Homo sapiens: one gene and its partner. The protein of the gene in region 1 purifies or fractionates together with the protein of each later gene. This does not show direct contact. Each region holds a gene or a part of one and is shown on either strand. Other genes may lie near its edges. The genes, in order: ICMT and RAD51D.

What was found.
Region 2: the proteins of ICMT (region 1) and RAD51D purify together in Homo sapiens (affinity purification with mass spectrometry; 2 studies listed by BioGRID and IntAct, with this or other methods). This does not show direct contact.

The regions. Positions count from the first base shown.
Region 1 is NC_000001.11:6,229,316-6,233,132, reverse strand, and holds part of ICMT (protein-S-isoprenylcysteine O-methyltransferase), read left to right. Parts: intron 1-1,013; coding exon 1,014-1,231; intron 1,232-3,817. UniProt on the Homo sapiens protein: Catalyzes the post-translational methylation of isoprenylated C-terminal cysteine residues.
Region 2 is NC_000017.11:35,095,607-35,099,423, reverse strand, and holds part of RAD51D (DNA repair protein RAD51 homolog 4), read left to right. Parts: 3' UTR 1-3,817. UniProt on the Homo sapiens protein: Involved in the homologous recombination repair (HRR) pathway of double-stranded DNA breaks arising during DNA replication or induced by DNA-damaging agents. Bind to single-stranded DNA (ssDNA) and has DNA-dependent ATPase activity.

The DNA of each region.
Region 1 (3,817 bases):
CCTGTAATCCCAGCACTTTGGGAGGTCGAGGCGGGTGGATCACAAGGTCAGGAGTTCGAGACCAGCCTGGCCAATATGGTGAAACCCCGTCTCTACTAAAAATACAAAAAAGCCAGGCGTAGTGGCACATGCCTGTAATCCCAGCTACTCGGGAGGCTGAGGCAGGAGAACTGCTTGAATCCGGGAGGCGGAGGTTGCAGTGAGCCGTGATCGCGCCACTGCACTCCAGCCTGGGTGACAGAGCGAGACTCCCATCTCAAAAAAAAAAAAAGAGTTTACTAACAAGGTCGGGTGCAGTGGCTCACGCCTTTAATCCCAGCACTTTGGGAGGCCGAGGTGGGTGGATCACATGAGGTCAGGAGTTTGAAACCAGCCTGACCAGCATGGTAAAACCCCGTCTCTACGAAAAATACAAAATTAGCCGGGCCTGGTAGTGCATGCCTGTAATTCTAGCTACTTGGGAGGCTGAGGCAGGAGAATTGCTTGAACCCAGGAGATGGAGGTTGCAGTGAGCTGAGATTGTGCCATTGCACTCCAGCCTGGGCAATGAGAGTGAAACTCCGTCTCAAAAAATAAAAGCCTCCGTATGTGGAATGCACTCTGAAATTGAATGTCTCACAGCCAATGAAATGAAATACATGTGGCTCCTGGGATTCAGGGTGGAAACCTTGGACCCTTTTTTGCTTCTCTTAGCTATACTTGTCCCCAGATGAAGGACTGAGCATGTGGCCGGGGGTCGTGAACCAGAGAGCCCATCAGCTGTAGCAGGAGAGCATCTCTTTACCATGATGCTTTCATTGTGCTTATTGGTGTTTTAAAGTAAATTGATGAACAGCATAACTTAGGGGAATGTGTTTTCTTATGAAATTTTAATGTGATGACAAATGCTGATTGCCCAGCAGCACATTTTCTGTTTCTGTCTTCGGGAAAATAGGTTAATTTTAAGCAGTGCGAAGGGGAGCTCAGGCCAGTGTTTTCACTCCCCGTGTGTCGTTGATGTCTCTCTCCCACAGAACTGAAGCAGATTACCTGGCTCAGTGTCACAGGGCTGCTGATGGTGGTCTTCGGAGAATGTCTGAGGAAGGCGGCCATGTTTACAGCTGGCTCCAATTTCAACCACGTGGTACAGAATGAAAAATCAGATACACATACTCTGGTGACCAGTGGAGTGTACGCTTGGTTTCGGCATCCTTCTTACGTCGGGTGGTTTTACTGGAGTATTGGAACTCAGGTATAATATTAAATATGACACTGCTTTTCTTTTTTTTTTTTTTAAGTAACATTTTAAACGTGATATTCACGTAGCATAAAAGTCACCATTTCAAAATATACAATTAGTGGTTTTCAGTGTATTCATGAGGTTGTTGGTCTCCTTTAAATAATAGGTACATGTTCTTCTTGGCGCGTTTCAAGTGATAATTTAATAAAAGTCAAGAGAACTAATGTAGTCCTTAATGCTTTTCACTATGTGCCCAGAACCTGGGTGCGTAAGTCCTTGGTGATTCTTGGTGCTGTTAGCTACCTGCTGTATCCCTTCATCCTGTTTCTGCCTCTGTTTGTTTGTTTTCTTTTTTCTTTTTTTTTTTTTGGTAGAGACAGGGTCTTACTGTGTTGCCTGGGCAGGTCTCAAACTCTTGGCCTTAAGTGATCCTCCCACCTCAGCCTCGCAAAGTGCTAGCATTATAGGCATGAGCCATTGTGCCTCTCCCTTTCTCTGCCCCTTCAACCTATTAATAGATCTGAAGCACCCCAGAGGGGGTGAGGACAGAGATGGGGCTTAGGGAAGGGAGTGCCCTCTGTCACTCATGTGGCAGCTTGGCTAGTTTTCATCAGAAATAGGTATTAATGGGGCCGAGGCCATGTGTTAGTGAGCTGTGTGAGCCATGGAGGTTTGTTCTGTCTCAGGCTGAAGAAAAGGCCTTGTTTCGTTTCTTTTCTTTTCTTTCTTTCTTTTTTTTTTTTGAGACCTAGTCTTGCTCTGTTGACCAGGCCAGAGTGCAGTGGTGCGATCTTGGTTCACTGCAACCTCTGCCTCCCAAGTAGCTGGAACTGTAGGCACGAACCACCATGCCTGACTACTTTTCGTATTTTTTTTGTAGAGACAGGGTTTCTCGAGTTGCCCAGAGCCATCTTGAACTACTGAGCTCAAGCAGTCTGCCTTCCTGGGCCTCTCAAAGTGCTGGGATTACAGGCTTGAGCTACAGTGCCTGGCCTTTTTTTTTTTTTTTTCCTTTTTGAGATGGAGTCTCACTCTGTTGCCCTGTTGCCCAGGCTGGAGTGCAGTGGCATGATCTCAGGTCACTGCAACCTCTGCCTCCCAGGTTCAAGCGATTCTCTTGCTTCAGCCTCCTGAGTAGCTGGGACTACAGGCGCCCGCCACCACACCCGGCTAATTGTTTGTATTTTTAGTAGAGATGAGGTTTGACTGTGTTAGCCAGGATGGTCTTGATCTCCTGACCTCATGATCTGCCCGCCTCGGCCTCCCAAAGTGCTGGGATTATAGGCATGAGCCACCGTGCCCAGCTTTTTTTTTTTTTTTTTTTTTTAAAGACAGGATCTTGCTGTGTTGCCCAGCCTGGAGTGCAGTGTTCTGATCATGGCTCACTGCAGCCTTGACCTCCTGAGCTCAAGTGATCCTCCTACCTCAGCCTCCCAAGTAGCTGGAATACATTACAGGTGTTGCCACCACGTCCGGCTAATTTTTAAATTTTTTGTAGAGGTGGTTCTCCTGGACGGTTGCCTGTAATCCCAGCACTTTGAGAGGCTGAAGTGGGTGGGTCACTTGACATCAGGAGTTTGAGACAAGCCTAGCCAACATGGCAAAACCCCATCTCTATTAAAAATACAAAAATTAGTTGGGCCTGGTGGCACATGCCTATAGTCTCAGCTACTCGGGAGGCTGAGACCTGAGAACCGCTTGAACCTGGGAGGTGGAGGTTGCAGTGAGCTGAGATTGTGCCACTGCACTCCAGCCTGGGTGATGGAGTGAGACTCTGTCTCAAAAAAAAAAGAGATGGTTCCTCCTTTGTTGCCCATGCTGGTCTTGAACTCCTGGGCTCAAGCCATCCTCCTACCTTGGCCTTCTAAAGTGCTGGGATTAGGCCAGGCATGGTGGTTCTTACTTATAATTCCAGCTAGTCGAGAGACTGAGGCACAATATTTGCTTGAACCTGGGAGGCAGAGGTTGCAGTGAGCTGAGATCACGCCACTGCACTCCAGCCAGGGTGACACAGCAAGAATCTGTCTCAAAAAGAAAAAAAGAAAAAGAAGTGTAAGGATTATAGGTGTGAGCCACTGCACCTGCTCTATGTGTGTGTGTGTGTGTGTGTGTGTGTGTGTGTGTGTGTGTATTTTTTTTATTTATGTATGGTTTTTTGTTTTGTTTTGAGGCAGGGTCTCTCACCCAGGCTATAGTGCATTGGCATGATCATGGTTTACTGCAGCCTCTACCTCTTGGGCTCAAGTGATCCTCCCACCTTAGTCTCCTAAGTATCTGCCCAGGCTGGAGTGCGGTGTCACAATCTCGGCTCATTGCAACCTCCGCCTCCCGGGTTTGAGTGATTCTCCTGCCTCAGCCTTCTAAGTAGCTGAAACTACAGATGTGTGTCATCACACCTGGCTAATTTTTGTATTTTTTAATTAATTTATTTTTTTGAGATGGAGTTTCACTCTTGTTGCCCAGGCTGGAGTGCAATCATGTGATCTCAGCTCACTGCAACCTCTGCCTCCCGGGTTCAAGCGATTCTCCTGCCTCAGCCTCCTGAGTAGCTGGGATTACAGGCATGCGCCACCATACCCGGCTAATTTTGTATTTTTA
Region 2 (3,817 bases), on another chromosome or scaffold:
TGCAAATTCTTGCCACTCAAGGTACTATTTGGGCATCTTCAGCCCACAGCAGACATGACCAATCGGGCACAAGCACTCTTTTTTGTGGAAGTCAAAGTGTTTTTAGAAGTTTTTCTCAATATAGCACTCCAGGGGGCCACTACCAGTCAGTTGGAGTTGGTATTCAAGGTGGAGTCTGGTTGCCGTCTCTGCCCTGTTCCCATTATGTAGTGAGTTCAGGTACTTAATACCTAACTGAGGACCCTAGGACTGCAGTTTGAGATCATCTGGGGCCAGGCACAGTGGCTCACACCTATAATGGTAGCACTTTGGGAGCCTGAGGCGGGAGGATCACTTGAGCCCAGGAGTTTAACAGTTTAAAATCAGCCTGGGCAACATGATGAGACATCGTTTCTACAAAAAAATTTTTTAAATTAGCTAGGCATTGTGATGTGCACCTGTGGTCCCTGCTACTTGGGAGCCTGAGGCAGGAGAATCGCTTGAACCTTGGAGGTTGTGGCTGCAGTGAGCCCTGATCGCACCACTACACCCCAGCCTGGGTAACAGAGCAAGACCCTGTCTCAAGGAAAAAAAAAATCATCTGGCCCATCCTGTTACTTAACAGAGAAGGTACCTGAGGCTCAAAAAGGATGACTGACAGTCCTAGTGGCAGAATGGAGGTGGGATCTGGAACCCACAACTTGATTCCTAGGACTCTTTTTTTTTTAATTCCCACATTGGCTGGGTGTGGTGGCTCACGCCTGTAATCCCAGCACTTTGGGAGGCTGAGGTGGGTGGATCACCTAAGGTCAGGAGTTCCAGACCAGCCTGACCAACATGGTGAAACCCCGTCTGTACTAAAAATACAAAAATTAGCCAGGCATGGTGGCCCATTTCCTGTAATCCCAGCTACTCAGGAGGCTGAGGCAGAATCGCTTGAACCTGGGAGGCGGAGGTTGCAGGGAGCTGAGATGGCGCCACTGCACTCCAGCCTGAGCGACAGAGTGAGACTCCGTCTCAAAAAAAAAAAAAAAATGCAAAAATTAGCCAGGCGTCGTGGCGCATGTCTGTAATCCCAGCTCCTCGAGAGGCTGAGTGGGGAGGATCACTTGAGCCCAGGAGGCAGAGGTTGCAATGACCTGCGATCATGCCACTGCACTCCAGCCTGGGCAACAGAGACTCTGTTTCAAAAAGAAAAAAAAAATCCCCACATTTTATTTAATTTTCAGTCCATACAGTTCTATTCCTGCTAGGGCTGTAACTCCAGCTGAAGGCACCACAGCTGTCACCCAAGGAGTTTCTGTGGCCATGGGAAGGTGTTGCATTCACTGCTACTTGAGACCACCACGTGACATTCCTGCAGGCTGTGCCCCTCACAGCCAGCTTCATCCTTTGGCTCCTCCTAGACCAGGACTTTGTCTTGCCTGCCTGCTGCCACTGCACTCTGTTCCGGCCACACCACACTGTGCAGTCCCCTGGTAGGACTTGGGCTAGGCTGGCTCTCCTGTCCAAGTGCCTTTTGCTCCCTTTGCTTATGTGTCTGTCTCTGCCCAGCTCCCACTGTGTCTGGTGCACACCCACCCTGACATCCTTTTTTATGCCTCAGCTGTGATCTAGATAGATGCTTACAGTAACTTCCCTGTATTAGTTATTCACTTGTACTTTCTGTTCACGTGTCTGCCTACAGGCTCCCACTTTTTGTCACTTTTTCTCTTTATACATTATGGAAGCTCAGTAATGATTAAATAGATGAATGATGTTTTAAAAATATATTTTAAAAAAGCAAAGGACTGGCTCTATCTCAGGGGTTCCTTCCATAAAGCGTCAACTTTCAATTTCCCCTGCGGGGGTGGTTTGAGACCTGAGGGCACTCTCTAGTTCTTAGGAAAAAAATATACATATACATATACATATATATATATATATACACACACACACACACACATATACACACATATATATACATATATATACACACATATATATATATACACACATATATATACACACATATATATACACATATGAGCCAGGCGCAGTGGCTCACGCCTGTAATCCCAGCACTTTGGGAGGCCAAAGTGGGCGGATCACAAGGTCAGGAGTTCAAGACCAGCCTGGCCTATATAGTGAAACCCTGTCTCTACTAAAAATACAAAAATTAGCTGGGTGTGATGGCTCGCATCTGTAATCCCAGCTACTTGGGAGGCTGAGGCATGAGAATCGCTTGAACCTGGGAGATGGAGGTTGCAGTGAGCCGAGATTGTGCCACTGTACTCTAGCCTGGGCAACAGAGTGAGACTCCATCTAAAAAATATATATATATGTTCACACCCACATCATTGAGTCCCCAGAGTGTCTTCTTACATATCTTTTTACAGGGGACTATTGTATGCCCTTCGTCTGACATCAGATGAAATTAATGTTGAGATCCTACTATGTGCTAGCACTTGATGGCCTTAATTAAAAATCAGGCATTTGAATTCCCAAGGACTCAGGCAAAGGTCCATGTATCATTAAGGCTGCAAGTAACAAAACCTAGGCTTAAAGAAGTGTAAATACTAGGGACACTTATTTATATTTATTTCTTTTATGTTTCAAGACAGAGTCTTGCTCTGGAGTGCAGTGGCACAATCACGGCTCACTGTACCCTCTACCTCCCAAGCTCAAGTGATCCTCCCACTTCAGTCTCCCAAGTAGCTGGGACTACAGGTGTGTGCCACCACACCCATCTAAGTTTTGTATTTTTTGTAGAGACGGGGTCTCTGTACGTTGCCCAGGCTGGTCTTGAACTCCTGGGCTCAGGTGATCTACCCGCCTTGACCTCCCAAAGTGCTAGGGATTACAGTCATGAGCCACCATGCCTGGCAGGGACACTTATTATCTCTGATAACAGGAAGTCTGAGGTTTGTTAATTTAGTGGCTCATTGTCAAATGGCGTAGAGCCTTTGCATCCTTCTGCTCTGTTCTTTTATGTTGGTTTTGTCTTCAAGCTTGTTCCCCTTATGAAAGCCTGGCTGCAGCCATTTTGAGCATCAATCCAGACGTGACAATATCTACAGGCAGGAGAAGGATCGCCTCCTGTGTGTCCTTTAAAGAACAAGGTGTTAACATGCCAGGAACTGTGGCTCCTGACTGTAATCCCAGTAATTTGGGAAGCCAAAGTAGGAGGATCGCCTGAGGCCAGGAGTTCCAGACCAGCCTGGGCAACATAGCAAGACCCTATCTCTATAAAATAAAATAATAAAAATTAAGAAAACAAGGTGTTAAAAGACAAAATTAAAGCAAATATAGTTTTGCAGATTGTAATTGACTTTTATTTGCAATTCTAGAATTGGGCTGCCCTCAGAACCAGGACAGGTTCAGAGAATTCCAGAGCTGCAACATAGTCTGAAAGCATTTATGGTCAGAAAACAGAAATGAGATACAAAGACAACTAATTGGTTACAGCTCTGCCTTTGCCTTATTTGAAAATGGTTTGAATAGTTGGCTGCCTGGAACCCACTGAAGCTGATGATGTGATTGGCTGAGCCTCAGCAATCTGTTACAAAAGTATACTCCTAAATTAGGTTTTCAGTTAGTTTGCATACTAAGGCTGCAGTTTGTTAAGGGCCCAAGTAAAGCCTCCTCAGGTCAATTTTTTTTTTCTTTTTGAGATGGAGTCTTGCTCTTGCTCAGGCTGGAGTGCAGTGGCGTGATCTCAGCTCACTGCACCTCTGCCTCCCGGGTTCAAGTGATTCTCCTGCCTCAGCCTCCTGAGTAGCTGGGACTACGACTACAGGCGCCTGCCACTATGTCCGGCTAATTTTTTGTATTTTTAGTAGAGATGGGGTTTCATCAT